Linked DNA regions of Homo sapiens. The protein of the gene in region 1 interacts with the protein of each later gene in a pairwise test. Each region holds a gene or a part of one and is shown on either strand. Other genes may lie near its edges. The genes, in order: KAZN and TNS4.

What was found.
Region 2: the proteins of KAZN (region 1) and TNS4 interact in binary tests that used the Homo sapiens proteins (3 or more experiments, as listed by UniProt).

Annotation. Positions count from the first base shown.
Region 1 is NC_000001.11:15,091,451-15,099,105, reverse strand, and holds part of KAZN (kazrin), read right to left. Parts: intron 4,927-7,655; coding exon 4,721-4,926; intron 4,292-4,720; coding exon 4,173-4,291; intron 179-4,172; coding exon of another isoform or gene 172-178; exon of another isoform or gene 1-171. UniProt on the Homo sapiens protein: Component of the cornified envelope of keratinocytes. May be involved in the interplay between adherens junctions and desmosomes. The function in the nucleus is not known.
Region 2 is NC_000017.11:40,484,269-40,491,923, reverse strand, and holds part of TNS4 (tensin-4 precursor), read left to right. Parts: intron 1-2,954; coding exon 2,955-3,378; intron 3,379-4,463; coding exon 4,464-4,888; intron 4,889-6,916; coding exon 6,917-7,003; intron 7,004-7,314; coding exon 7,315-7,440; intron 7,441-7,655. UniProt on the Homo sapiens protein: Promotes EGF-induced cell migration by displacing tensin TNS3 from the cytoplasmic tail of integrin ITGB1 which results in dissociation of TNS3 from focal adhesions, disassembly of actin stress fibers and initiation of cell migration.

The DNA.
Region 1 (7,655 bases):
AGTGAACTCCTATGGACTCTGCAGAGACGTCTGGTCTCCCGGAAGCCTTCCAAGATGTCATGCTGGGTCAGGAGCCCTTCTCTGTGTCCAAAGCCCCTGGAAGTCCCCATCTCTGCACCAGTCACATTGTGGTTCATGGTTACGCATCTGGCCAGCTGCCTCACTGGACGGTCAGCTCCTGGGGGGCAGGGTGGGGTGTGGCTTATCTGTGAATGTCCAGGGCCCCTTCAGGCTCTGAGTTCACACTCACCAGTGTTTGTCTCATAGTCGAATGTGTGGATGACAGAGCAGTGCTGGGTGAGCGGGTCATCTGCCCCAGTCCACCTGGAGGCTGCCCAGCTGGAGCTCCTGAACTGGAAACTTCTGGCCCAAGACAACCTCCCTTCTAGGATGAAAAGGTCCTGGGGCAGTCCCCCTCCCAGTCCCTCAAGGGCCGGCCTCAGCCTTGTTACAGGACGGTTCTCTCGGGCAGGAGCTGGAGCCCACAGCCCTCTGAATCAGATGCCACTGGGCCAGATTTGTCACTGATGAAGACTAGAATGGCCTCCTCTCCTCTCTGAAGCAAGAGTTTGGTCAGCAAATCAATGGTGCAACAAGAGTTGGGGTGGAGAGCTGCAAAGGGGGCACCCCACTTAACCTACTCGAGAGGGGCCCATCCATAATCAGCAATCTCCATCTGCATGCCCACAATTAATGTGCTCCTGCCCTTCAGAAATGTTCTCTTTTCATTAAGGGTGTCCCCATGGGGCCGCAGCTTGGCGATACGTTCCCAGCTGTTGGTTTGAGCTATTTATTGTAAGAGCCCAAGTTGAATAAAACAGCATGATTTTAAAAGGAATTCAGACATTTTATAAAATCTGTCACTGCCCCATCCCTGAACTGGAGCCGGATTAGACTCTGAAATCTGAGGACGGCACAAAATTTAGATATTGTCTGGGTCACGGCGCAGCACGGAAAACGGGAAGCTGTTCTGGTTCTATTACTTTTTAGCTCTGGGACCTTGAAACTCTGGGTCTCCGTTTTCTCCTCTGTAAAACGGGGAGAATTGCGCTTGCCTCATGGAGTTGTAGGGACTAAAAGAGAGGAGAATGCAAAACCCCTAACACAGGGTCTGGGACACACCTAGTGTTCTATAAATAGTAGTAGTAGAAGCTGTCATTGTTCTTGTTTTTAACACAAAGGCAGCATGGGACACTGGAAAGGCAACTGACTTTGAAGTCAGGTTTTTTGTAGTGTGACTTTATGCTCATGATTTCTCTGCATCTAATTTTCTCCGACTTTATTTTTCAGACGGAGTTTCATTCTTGTCGCCCGGGCTGGAGTGTAATGATGCAGTCTCGGCTCACTGCAACCTCCGCCTCCTGGGTTCAAAAAATTCTCCTGCCTCAGCCTCCTGAGTAGCTGGGATCACAGGCACACACCACCACGCCTACTAATTTTTCTATTTTTAGTAGAGACAGGGTTTCACCATGTTGGTTAGGCTGGTCTCGAACTCCTGATGTCAGGTGATCCACCTGCCTTGGCCTCCCAAAGTGCTGTGATTACAGGTGTGAGCCATCGTACCCGGCCTTCTCCATCTTTAAAATGGGAGTAAGCATGTCTATCCTGCATTGATGTTGTGAGGGTAAATAAAATGATATCCATAAGGTGATGATGGGTTGGTAAGGGGTTGGTGGGTTTTGTCATTGGTATTTTGTAGATAAGGTGACCAGTCCCAGAGAGGACGCCATCATGCCCATGGTCACACAAGATGTCATGGCTGAAAATGTTCTCGAAGATGAACTCATTTAGAGTTCTTACCCCCGAGTCCATGGAGCCCTGAAAGTGGGTGGGCCAGAGAGTCCCACCCACCAACCCAACACAGTGAAAAGTTGTGAAGTTTTGTGTATTTTTTCTAGAGAAAGTGTCAAAAGCTCTTATTAGATTCTTAAAGTGGTCATGATCCTCAAAAGTTTAAAAACCACTGTCCTAATTTAACTCCCTTCACTTCTCAGGTGGGAAACAGTCCCAGAGAGGGCAAGGTCATGTGGCAAACTGGAGACAGGCCAGATTCCCACTGGGAGTAGAAAACTCAAAATAAGTCCTCTGCCTCCTCCAGGAAGCCCTGGGGGTGTCTAAGGGTGGGGCTCCACGATCCCTGGGACCACAGACTCCTGGTTCCTGGAGGTTAACGTGGTGCCACTGTTAGGGATTAAATGTTTCCCTCTGCCATGCCCCCCACCCAATTCACATGCTGAAATCCTAACCTTCGATGTGATGGTATTTGTGGCTGGGGCCTTTGGGAGCTGATTAGATGAGGTCATAGGGGTGCCCTTCATGATGGGATTATTGTCCTTACAGGAAGAGACCAGAGACATCACTCTCTCCCCCTCCCTCTTCCTTCTTCCCCATGTGAGGACACAGCAAGAAGGTTGCCTTCTGCAAGCCAGGAAGAGAGCCCTCCCCAGGTCCCAACCATGCTGGCATCCCGATCTTGGACTTCCAGCCTCCAGAACTGTGAGACGTAAGTTGTTGTCTAAGCAACCCAGATGGTGTCATTTTGTTATGGCAGCCCAAGCAGACTAAGACAGCCCCATTTAGGGGCTGTGTTGTGCAACACACAAGTGCAGGCCATGCTGGGGGACGAGGCTGTCGGGGGCAGGGGCTGGGCAGGCCGCACCCCTGGGAGGCAGAGGACGGTGGGGACGTCCTCCCCCCATGCATTTCTTCTCTTCAAAATCAAAGTGGCTTTTAGTGTTTTTGTTTTTCTGCCCTTGCCCCCACTACAAAAGTAATCTATGAAAAGAAAAGAAGAAAAGCTTATCCCCATTTAGGGGGAACCCAGGCAGTAGCCCAGACTCCTGAAGTTTTTGAAAGATGAAGCAGTCATCCCCACCCTGTTCATTGAACACAGGCAGTGTTTATGGACCCTGCTGGGTGTGGGGTAAGGGGGCAGGAGGGATTTCCTACTTGGGTGACCAAAGATGGTGAGGGGATTCAGGGATGGCTTTAGGGGATTCCTGGATGGAACTGGTTAGGAGGTGGGTGCTGGGTGTAAGGTGTTTTTGGGACCCTCAGGAAGGAAAGCCCAGCAGGGGTTGCCCTCATGGCCCTCCTCCCCATCCCTCAGCCCAGCCCTGTCTCAGACGAGCCAGCATCCTGATGGTGCCAATGAGGCCTGGCACCTTCTTGCTCTGAGTCGCTCCCTAAGTTTCTGATCCAGTCTCACCTCAGTACTTCCTGCCACCCTAGAGTCATGCCGAGGGCCCCTCTCCTGCACACATATGGATTTGGTTTTCCTGCTTCCAAACCAGCCGATTTTCCACCCCAAACCCTGCTTCTAAAAAAATCCCCTAAGCTGCTTCTGCAAATTACAGCACACACCACCAGGTTTGATTAACTAACTACACAAAAATGATGGAGAAACCAGTGAAGGACATAATTATGCAAAACAGAAGTGTCAGATTTACAAAGCGAGTTCTTCCCCTCTCCACATTCTCAGAACGGGGTGGGGCGGGGTGGGGGTGGGGGTTCCTTCCCTTTACCCTGTAGCTGCCCCTGCTCAACAAATTTTGCTCACAGAAAGCCAGGAGAGAGGCAGGCAGGCCGGAGGCAGAGCAGGAGTGGTATGAGCGGTGGGGGTGGGTGGCCTGCGGGGGTACACCTGATGAGAAGGCCCTGCAGCCATCCCAGGTATGCTTGCTAAGAGAAGCCCCCTCCACCTGGCCCGCTCCTCTATGGGAGAGGTTTCACCAAGCCCACTCACGCCTACTTGATCTCTGCCTGCCTCGGCTCTGCCTTGCACCGTTTTTCCTCACCCTGTTATGTATGGTAAGAACCAGGAGCAGACACCATGGCGGCCCAGTGTGCAGAGCTGCTTGGGCTGGTCCCGGAAGGCAGAGGAGTGCTGGGGGGCTCGTGAGGTTCCCGCATTGGTTGGGGGTGTACTAGGGCCTTTGGGGCCTCTTGTCTTCCCCATGTGTCTGTCTTTCTACGGAGGGGGCTGGCCCAGAGCAGGGCTGGGGTATGCCCAAGCCCCCTCATCAGGGGCATCCCCGGACCATCTTAGTCACACCCTGCTGTCCCCCACCACCTGGTTCAGCCCACAGTGCCCCGCTCACCCCACCTGTGTGACCAAAGGCCTCAGGATGACTTTTTCTCTCCTCCCCCGGGGCCCCTCGTGGTGGGCTCACCTGCGGCCTGCCTCGGCATCACGGTAGTCCTCGATGGCCAGGCGCAGCTTGCGCCGGTGCAGGGAGCTGCACACCCCAAGGCCCAGCTGCAGGTCCTCGTCACTCAGGCTCAGCAGCACCTGCCCCCGGGAGGGAGTGTCATATGGGGGCTGGGACAGCTGCCGGCGGGGTTCCTGCCCTAGAGGGGGTCTGTTGACATGGGGCTCCTTCCCCATCTCCTGCCCACCTTTCATACAGTGGGGTCAGGGCACATGGAAACCTCTGCAACTCTGATGTGGGGCGGAATCCCTGTTCAGGCAGAGGGAGCCCTTTCCCTTAGGCAGGTAAAGGAAACCTGGGTCCATTGTCAGGATGAGGCAGCTGAGGGCTCTCTGCCTTGCCAGGGAGGCACAATGAGCAGGTACATCAGAGGCTGATTGCATTGGCTAGCTCCTAGATTGCACCTTCTCCTGACTCCAGGGTAGGAGTGGGGGGCAGGCCAGCTTCTGGGTACGTAAAGCTCACAGAGGGCATGGGTGGCATCCCATAGGGGGCCCGGAGTTGCCTACCTTCCCGCTCTTCACGTTCTCCGTGCAGGCCTTGACGTACATAGGCATGGCCATCACCACCTCCAGCCAGGCCTGGACGGTGCCCGCCTTCCAGTGGGACATAGGGGTGGTCCTCACCAGCTCCACCTGCTGCAGCCGGTCCATCTGCTCCTCGCCTTCCGACAGGCTGAGGCTCTGCCGCGTGGGGCTGCACTGGCTGTCCGAGTCTGCAACACACAAGTGCAGGCCATGCTGGGGGACGAGGCTGCTGGGGGCAGGGGCTGGGCAGGCCATACCCCCGGGAGGCAGAGGGTGGTGGGGACATCCTCCCCTCCATGTATTCTCTTCAAAATCAAAGTGGCTTTTGGCGTTTTTGTTTTTCTGCCCTTGCCCCCATTACAAAAGTAATCTATGAAAAGAAAAGAAGAAAAGCTTATCCCAGAAAAAAATAAAACAGTAAATGAAGATCACCCCACGTGACTGTGAAAGGCAAATAAATCTTGGGACCCCAAACTCATTAAGCCAAAGGGAAAAGTCAAGCCGGGAACTGGGTCACACAAACCTGCCTCCCCGTTTTGATTCCTAAATAAGATGAACTGCTACACACCTCCCTCATATTTTGCCCACAAGGAAATTCCTGGCGAGCTTGGAGATATTTACCCTAAAGCATTTCTGTTAAAATTCACCATGGCAATGTAAATGGATAGCTTATCTTTACACAGTATTCACCCCTCTGCTCACCTGGCACAAATGCATATCTGATTGTTCCCCTGCCTCATTTATCTTTATCTTATGTAAAAATGTCGATTTCCTGCATGTTCCCCATCTGTCTATGTTACCTTATGTAAAAATGCAGATTCACTGGGCCAGACAAAGGCACGAATGATTATTTTCCCCCGCCCCCCTCTTACATGAAACTGTGTGCTTCTCAATATCCTTTCGCCTTTAAATCTGGAGGCCTCAAAATCATCTTCGGAGAAAGGCACAGACCTGTCTCCTGGGCGCGCGTCCTTAACTTTGACAAATACACCTCCTAAAATGACTGAGACCTGTCTCATCATTCTTCTAGATCGACACCACCTAGAGACAGCAGCTGTTAAATACTCTTTTCTGGATACAGAAAAGCCACACTTACAAACACACACAGACCCGCTTGCTTACGGGGTGCGTGCATTTGAGGTGTGTGCATTTGTGATATGCCTGTTCACTTTCGCTGTGGAGGAGACTGTTCCATCTCCACAGAGACCTGCGGTACCTTTTGACTGCGCGGGATTCATCAGAAGGAGGCTCCGTAATTTATTTCACCTCCTACTGATGGGCATGGCGGTTGTTTCCAATTTTTCACTATTGTAAACAACACAGCGGCAGTCGTCTTTGGGCAACTGGGTGATTTATTTTCGTAGGATAAATGGAACCCAGCTCCATTCCTTAATACACTGAAAGCTGTTTCTGGAATGGCCCTCACAGACCAAAAAAAAAAAAAAGTTCATCCACCAACATTTTCTAACCCCACTCTTCTATATATGGTTCGTTGCATCAAGGCCTGGTAAATATGAAAAGTTCAGGTTACAGAGACTCAATTGAGAGGGGAAAAGAATCTCTCTAAAAGAGGGTTCGATAAAAACCTAAACAGGCCGGGCGTGGTAGCTCACGCCTATAATCTCAGCACTTTGGGAGGACAAGGTGGGCAGAATGCTTGAGCTTCAGGAGTTTGAGATCAGCCTGGGCAACATGGTGAAACCCCATCTCTACCAAAAATACAAAAAAATTAGCTGGACGTGGTGGCGTGTGCCTGGGGTCCCAGCTGCTCAGGAGGCTGAGGTAGGAGGATCTTTTCAGCCAGGGAGGCGGAGGTTATAGTGAGCCAAGATCATACCACTGTACTCCAGCCTGGGTGACAGACTGAGACCCCAACTCAAAACAGAACAAAACAAAACAAAACAAAACAAAACAAATAAAAACACACACACACACCCAAACAGACAAACTCAATACCATGAGAAACAACAAGTATTTAAATATAACTCTGACTGGCTGGGCACAGTGGCTCATGCCTGTAATCCCAGCACTTTGGGAGGCCGAGGTAGGTGGATCACCTGAGGCCGGGAGTTCAAGACCAGCCTGACCAACATGGAGAAACCCCGTCTCTACTAAAAATACAAAATTAGCCTGGGTGGTGGCATATGCCTGTAATCCCAGCTACTCGGGAGGCTGAGGCAGGAGAATCGCTTGAACCCAGGAGGCGGAGGTTGAGGTGAGCCGAGATTGCGCCATTGCACTCCAGCCTGGCCAACAAGAGTGAAACTCCGTCTCCAAAAAAAAAAAAAAAAAAATCAAAAAAAAAAACAAAAAAACAAAACCTCTGATTAGAAATGACCCTGCTGAAATTCAATATTATAAATCATTACAAGAATGTAAAAAAAAAATGCTTATCCATCCATAGAGACAGGACACAACATTAAAACAATAGGTGATAAGTCTACACAAATGTTCATAGTTACTGCCTTTCTGTGCTGGGGAGAATATGGTTATTTTCTTTTTGTTGTATGTCTCTGTATTTTCAAAGTTCCCTAGTAAACATGTATAGTTTTGTAATAAAAACTTTGGAAAAATTAAATACTAGGAAGCAATATGAATGGTTATTGATGAGAGTTTGTTTGAAGGAATGACGCTCCATTCATATGTTGGAATATGTGCAATGAATAAAAAGTCCTGTCACGGGAAAACATCCACCACCTACTGCCAAATGAAAAAGGAAAACACGGCCGGGTGCGGTGGCTCACGCCTGTAATCCCAGCACTTTGGGAGGCAGGTAGATCACGAGGTCAGAAGATCGAGACCGTCCTGGCTAACACGGTGAAATCCCATCTCTACTAAAATTACAAAAAATTATCCCGGCGTGGGCGTGGTAGCACACGCCTGTAGTCCCAGCTACTCCAGAGGCTGAGGCAGGAGA
Region 2 (7,655 bases), on another chromosome or scaffold:
CAACAATGTCTGCCAGGCAAGGCTGTTTACCCGCCCCAAGTGAAGGGTATTTAATAAGTATCTCTCCACCCCTCACCCACACGCCCTCCCTCCACTCACCCGCCTGCCTGGGGCTGGCGCCGGCACCCACCCAGCACTGCTCAGACTTGCCCCACAGGCCAGTAAACAGCGACTGCACCCCTGCAATGGGTAGAGGCCCCAACCCCACCCCCCAGCCACACCCACCTTGAGGTGAGCACGGGGCTCCTCCCTCCCCTCCCGCTCTCCTTACTCAGTGACCCCAGCAAGGTCCCTGATGGATGTTTCAATGGCCCAGTGAGTAGGGAGCCCAGAGCTTCACTGTGCCAAGAGACCCTCCCCAAAGCAGCCAAGCACCTTCTCACAGGGCAAGGCCTTGGAGCAGGTTCCCAAGGAGCCCCTCCTCATCCTGGAAGAAGCAGTCCCTAAACAGAGCTCAACAACACTCCCTGGCTGTGCAGCATTGGATAACTCACTTCACCTTTCTGAGCCTTCCAGATTTCCCATCTGTTATATGGGCATTAATAATATCCCCTACTTCCACAGAGTTGTCATGAGGGTTAAAGGAGCTAATACAAGCAATGTGTTCGTAGTGGTCCTGGCACATTGCACTCAATAAAGACCAGTCTCTGTGAAACATCGTTGTACACTAAGTGTTAGCTCCATCCCCACTCTTCTCCAAGCTTCAGTTTCCTCCTCTGTAAAAAATAATGCCTGCCCTGCTCAAGGGCTATTATAAGGTTCAGAGGAGATTATGGGTGTAAACACTATAAAGTCCTATAAAAATTGAAGTTGTGCTTTCCAGCCTTCCAGAAGAATCCAACCCATTCCAAGATCTCTTTTCTTCCAGAGCCCACAATGCAGTGCCCCAAACACTCTCTTCTTGCAGTCATCTTTCTAAGCAGAGAGATCCCCACCTTAGCCAGAAAAGGGCTCCATTTGGCCAATACTGTCCCCAAAAAGCAGGCAGGTAGGAAATGCTCCTCTCTCGAGCCTCACCATGGGCCAGGCTCCCGGCTATTGTATTTCATCCTCATCACAACCTTGGAAGACTGGTTTCAGATCCTCACTTTGCAGATAAGGAAACTGAGGCTCAGAGAGGTTAGGAAAGTTGCACAATGCCCTTGGCTGAAAAGCAGCAAAGCCAGGACTCACCCCAGGTTTGTTTTGCTACAAAGCTAGGCTCTTCCTCCACCCGCTGAGCAGCAAGTCCCAGTCAGCTGCCAGCCCTTGCTCATCTGATGTAACTCCCCACCCCCACCGTGGCCCAAGCAAGCTCAGACAGAGGCAGTAACTGTGAGCAGGGCCAGATGGCCCTACCCAGGAGCGGGCTGGGGCAGGCTGGGGCTCCACAGTCATAATGGGGAGGAACAGTGCATGTGCCAGGGCCCCAGGCAGGTGGGAGCTGAGGGTGCACGTTCTCCCCAATTTCCCCAGCCTCCATCCCAGGAAGCTAGAGGCAAGACTCACACTCTTCAGAAAGGAGCGGCTCATTAACCCCCACCTTCCTCCAGCTTTGCTGGAACAGCACCAAGGACAATTCCCTTCCCCCAGGTCAGGAGGAAGGGTGTTCATCCTCACCTTGGGGAGAACCTCAGAGCAGCCCACTGCAAGGCCGACCTCGGGAGAGGAACAAGGCCTCAGAATCCCAAGAGTCCTGGATGCCCCGACCAGGGAGTGGAAAGAGCGCTGGAGCGCGTCGGCAGCCTGGGGTGTGTTGGGTGACCCCTGTGTACCAGCTACCATCCCCAGGAGATCCATAGCTCAAGAATGCAGCAAGCCCTGTGCTCAGGGAGTGCCTGCTCCAAAGCAGGGTTCTCAGACTCCACTGCATATTCACATGCCCTGGGTGGCCTCGCTAAAATGCAGATTATGTTTCTGTAGGGGTGGAGCCCAGGTGATGTGGTCCTGCTGAGCCATTCATGGTCTACTGGACTCACCTGAAAAACTGGAAAACAAACAAAACTGAGGCCTGGGTTCACCCCCTGGAGAGTTTAATCTAATTGGCACAAGGCGCAGCCTGGGGTGAGTCTAGTGTGTAACCAAGCTTGAGAATCCCTGCTTTCACTGCAGGTACAGAGAAACCACTTCCTTTTTTTTTTTTTTTTTGGAGATGGGGCTTCACTCTTGTCACTCAGGCTGGAGTGCAGTGGCGCAATCTCGGCTCACTGCAACCTCTGCCTCCCGGGTTCAAGCGATTCTTGTACCTCAGCCTCCCAAGTAGCTGGGATTACAGGTGCCCGGCTAATTTTTGTATTTTTGGTAGAGATGGGGTTTGCCATGTTGGCCAGGCTGGTCTTGAACTCCTGACCTCAGGTGATCCACCCGCCTAGGCCTCCCAAAGTGCTGGGATTCCAGGTGTGAGCCACCGCGCCCAGCCTCAGAGAAACCACTTTCACACATCCTGAGTAGCAGAGGCATCAGAAAGTGTCACTGGTACAACCCATCAAGTGGCCATTTCAACCTAGGAACAGGGCACAGACAAAGGAGAGAGTTGCCCAGTTTTTAAGCACCTGGTCTGTGCCGGGAACAGTGCTGTGCTGCCTACATGAGTTTCACTTCATCCTTTTTGTATCACCAAAAGGCTGAATGCAGTTGCCCCACTTTACAGGTGTGGAAACTGAGGCCCTGGGTGGTGAAGTCTTTTGGCCAAACTCTCTCAGAAAATAAGTGGCAGAGCCAGATCTGAAGCCTGGGTCTGTCTGATTCCAAGGCCTGGGTCCCCTACTGCATCTCCTCACCCAAGGGAAGTTGTCACAGGGAGGGTGACTGGAACTGGGCCCTGAAGGTGGAGTTGGGCTCTCCTCTCTGGGCCTCAGTGTCCTCGTCTCTATAAAAGAGGGGGGACAGAATGACCTTGAGGATACTTCCAGCCTCTCTGTTCTATGAGTCCAGGCTCCTGCATTTCACCAATGCTCTGCTTTTCTCCCCCAAAGACATAAAGTACATCGAGGTGACCTCCGCCAGATCAAGGTGCCACGATGGCCCCCAGCACTGCTCCAGCCCCTCTGTCACCCCGCCCTTCGGCTCCCTTCGCAGTGGTGGCCTCCTCCTTTCCAGAGACGTCCCCCGAGAGACACGAAGCAGCAGTGAGAGCCTCATCTTCTCTGGGAACCAGGGCAGGGGGCACCAGCGCCCTCTGCCCCCCTCAGAGGGTCTCTCCCCTCGACCCCCAAATTCCCCCAGCATCTCAATCCCTTGCATGGGGAGCAAGGCCTCGAGCCCCCATGGTTTGGGCTCCCCGCTGGTGGCTTCTCCAAGACTGGAGAAGCGGCTGGGAGGCCTGGCCCCACAGCGGGGCAGCAGGATCTCTGTGCTGTCAGCCAGCCCAGTGTCTGATGTCAGCTATATGTTTGGAAGGTAGGTTCTGTAGCTTCTAACATTGCACACACACACACAGGCACACGCACGCATGCACCCCCTAAAATCACTGAAAGGGACCCTGCTCTGTCTGAGCAAAATCTGGGCATGCACCAAAACCAGAAGCAAATGTTTGCTTTTACAGCCTTTCAGATCTCAAGCTGTCCTCAAGCATTTAGAATACAATTCAATATAAAAAGTCTTGACTTATAGCTACCTTTTGGTAAAAGAGCCGTTGCCTTAATGAGGCTCATCTATATCCTTTCCAGCCCTCATACAACCCATCTCAAGGAAGGTTTTTTTAAACCCCAAAACACAGGGCTATAAATAGAATTGGGGGGCCTGAGATGAACTATTTAGGAATAAAAAGGTTCCTTCCTCTGTTGCTGGCAAAACCTAGCAAAGGAGTGAGGCAGCCCTGCCTGGGAATCACAATCATCCCAGCTCAGTTCTCTATAGACCTCACAGCAGAACTGCAGGCACATGCGCACCCATTCTGCCCCAGGAAGACCGAACCACAGGACTCTGCTTCCCACTCCACCTCCAAAGCCACTGGCCAAGGCAGTCCCTGGCACAGAGGCTGGGGATTCCACAGCCATGCCCACTGGCACAGGCCCCTGAGCTCAGGAAGAAGTCTGGCTGGATGTGAAGCTGGCCTTCTCCTGCAGCTGGGGAGTTCCCTCTGCATCAGCCACGGTGTGGTCCAGCGTAGGTTCAGCCCATCTGCAGGGCTCCTGGGAGTCATGGGGGCCTGAAGGGATCCTGATCCGACAGCTCAGTCAGAACGGCCTGGCTGGGAAGGCAGACGGAATGTGGGCCAGCCTATGCCCAAAGCCTGCAGGGGTCAGCTCATTGGCTACTTTAAGTGACCAAAGACCCTACCATCCAAGGACATTTCTGTATCCTTACCATCCCTTGAGGATTAGGTGGGCATGCACTTTGCTGTGGGCTGTAGGGGGTGGGGTATGCAGTGTTCTATTTGGCCTTTAAAGCCATGGGAACCCAGATCACCAGATCCGGAGCCTGACTCTAGCCCCTGAGCCACCTGTTGCCCTAACACCCTGTCTGACTCTCTCCCGCTGCAGCAGCCAGTCCCTCCTGCACTCCAGCAACTCCAGCCATCAGTCATCTTCCAGATCCTTGGAAAGTCCAGCCAACTCTTCCTCCAGCCTCCACAGCCTTGGCTCAGTGTCCCTGTGTACAAGACCCAGTGACTTCCAGGCTCCCAGAAACCCCACCCTAACCATGGGCCAACCCAGAACACCCCACTCTCCACCACTGGCCAAAGAACATGCCAGCAGCTGCCCCCCATCCATCACCAACTCCATGGTGGACATACCCATTGTGCTGATCAACGGCTGCCCAGAACCAGGGTCTTCTCCACCCCAGCGGACCCCAGGACACCAGAACTCCGTTCAACCTGGAGCTGCTTCTCCCAGCAACCCCTGTCCAGCCACCAGGAGCAACAGCCAGACCCTGTCAGATGCCCCCTTTACCACATGCCCAGAGGGTACGTCGTAAACCAATATTTGAAGCAATGTAAGATTTGGGGAATAGACAAAGTGCCAGTGGGTTTCTGCAACAGCCAGTCAACACATTTATTGAGCAACTATTGTGTGTCTGGCACTATGCCAGGTAGTGAGGACACACAGAGGGAAACAGTTTAGAAAGAGACAAAAACAAATCATCACGGTAGGGTAGGATAAACGCGGAGGTAAAGAGATATTCTCAATCATATTGGCCAAAGCTGAAGGAATGATTCTTTCAGTCTGGAGAACAGAGGAAGCGACATCCGAGCTGGATCTGGGAAATGGATCAGAAGTTTGTGGCCAGAGAAGGAGAGGAAAGGCATTCCCAGCAGAGAAAGCAGGGGGTCCACAGTCATGAAGGTGTGGAAGCGCATGGCATGTTCAGGAAATGCCGGAATGTTGGGTGCAGGTTCAAGTCATTGAGAGTAATTTGAAACCAGATTGTGAAAGGCCTTAAATGCCAAGCTAAAAAAAAAAAAAAAAATGGAATTTGCCTTTTAAGCAATAGGGTACCATCAGAGAGCCTCCTCACACAGGAGAGTGATGGGGTCAGAGGTGCTCGCTCAATGGATCACCCTGGCAGCTCAACGGATAGCAGGGTCCTGAACCGGGATAGGGCAGTGGGAGTGGAGGAGAGAGGACAGAACCAGGCGACCCTCAGGATGTGCTTGATGACTAACTCAAGGAGAGCAAGAGGGCGAGTCAGTTCTGACTCTGACGTTCGCAGATGATGAGAACACAGAGGGGGTGGATGGGGTAATAGAGACAATGCATTCCAGTTCAGACAGCCGAAAACCACAAAACAGCAAACACCCTCCTTCCCGGAGTCTGAGATCACAGGCGTCCAAGAAGAACAAACCCAAGCAGTAAACCCAGAAGCTAAGCTCTAGCACCCTGTGGATGCCTCTCCCATGAGCAGAGTCCCCTGCCAACCCCCTGTTCCCCCTCCCTCGGCCATCGGGGGGCTTCTCAGCCCCCACTTGGCCATGACGCTCACAGGCATCAAGGCGACTCCAGAGGGGGTGGGGGTGGAATGTTTACTATAGCCCACTGCTCACTCCCACTCACGAAGCCATGTGGAGGCAAGCAGGAGAAAATGACACTTCTGGCGTGCCTTTGCATCTGCCCTGATCGCTTTCCTAGGACAAATCATTTGCAGATTTTAGTACTTTTTTTGAATGAGTTACTTGAGAGTAAGTGGTCACAACACTCCTTTTCAAGCCGCCAAGGTTGACAGCTACTGCTCTCTGCCTTAGGGACCCAGGGAAATGGCCATTTTGGCATCCCAAAGCGCACATTTACTTAGCCTAGTGATATTCCCATCCTGCTTTGGTCCCATAATATCACCAACTATACCCCCAGATCTTATCAAATTCTGCAAAATATTCCTAAAACAAAATTCATTTTAATTCCATAGACTACTAGAACATTAAAGACCCTCAGAAGCTGTTTAGTCCACTTGGTCCCCTCTGAGCTTCAGTTATCCCATATCAGAGTCAAGATCCAGGCTCCCGCCTCCCAGGGGCATGTTTTTCTGCCCAGATCTGCTATTTTCCTCTCCTTCACGTTTTCTGCCATTTTCTTTTCCAAGCTGAATATTCCCGTAAGGAATTCTTAGGATTATGAAGACGAAGGAGAATGTAATATCAAACATGATGCATTTGAGAATTCCTTGTTTATCTCTTATTTCAGTCCTCACCAGGGGACTCAACAGTAGATTTAAGAAACCATTTCTCCTTAAACTGAGGTTGTATCTATTCATTCCTTATTCATTACCAAGGATACAAGGGCACTTCTGAGTTCTAGATGCACCAAACCCTGGCATCCTTCTGTTTGATTTTCCCTCATCGTAGGCAGTTTGGAGATACAATGGGGTTAGGGTCTGGGATGGTGGTTGAATGAAACCTTGGGGCAATAGAGTAGGGAAGGGTCTCCAGCCTTCTCTGGTGAACATCCCTCAGCTCCCGTCTGTCCAGCCTACAGGGTCCCCCTTCTCTGTCTGTCTCCAGGTCCCGCCAGGGACATGCAGCCCACCATGAAGTTCGTGATGGACACATCTAAATACTGGTTTAAGCCAAACATCACCCGAGAGCAAGGTAAAAGGAAGCACGAGTGACCCCAGAATAGGGTCTGGGTCTTGCACTTTGCATCAGGCAGGGCCCTGGGTTACAGTTAAGGAATGGCAAATAGTGGGTCCTGGGAAGCGGGGGAGGGGGATGTCCTGCTGACCTCATGACCTCCCGAGGAAGTAGGAACCACAGCAAGAATGGTGGAGATTTGACAGTACAAAGGACTTCCTGGGGACAAAAGGTGACTCTGTAACATCTGCTCTGTGAAGACCCTACGGGGCTGGGGACAGGGTGTCCAGGTGGGGCGGTGTCCATCTCTGACTCAAGGATTGTTCCAGCAATCGAGCTGCTGAGGAAGGAGGAGCCAGGGGCTTTTGTCATAAGGGACAGCTCTTCATACCGAGGCTCCTTCGGCCTGGCCCTGAAGGTGCAGGAGGTTCCCGCGTCTGCTCAGAGTCGACCAGGTATGCGTCTGTCTCTGTGCTCACTCAAGGCCTCACTGAGGCAGCGGGGTGTGGTAGGTTCCAGTCCTGGCTCTGGCACTAGCTTTCAGGGTGACATGGCGCCAGTCTTATAACAGCTCCTAGGAGAAGCGTCCACCCCAGTGTTCTCCCCGATGCCCTCCAGCCCCAAGGCACCCTGAAAAACGCCTTTCACAGCAAGCCTGCGTGCTTCTGCC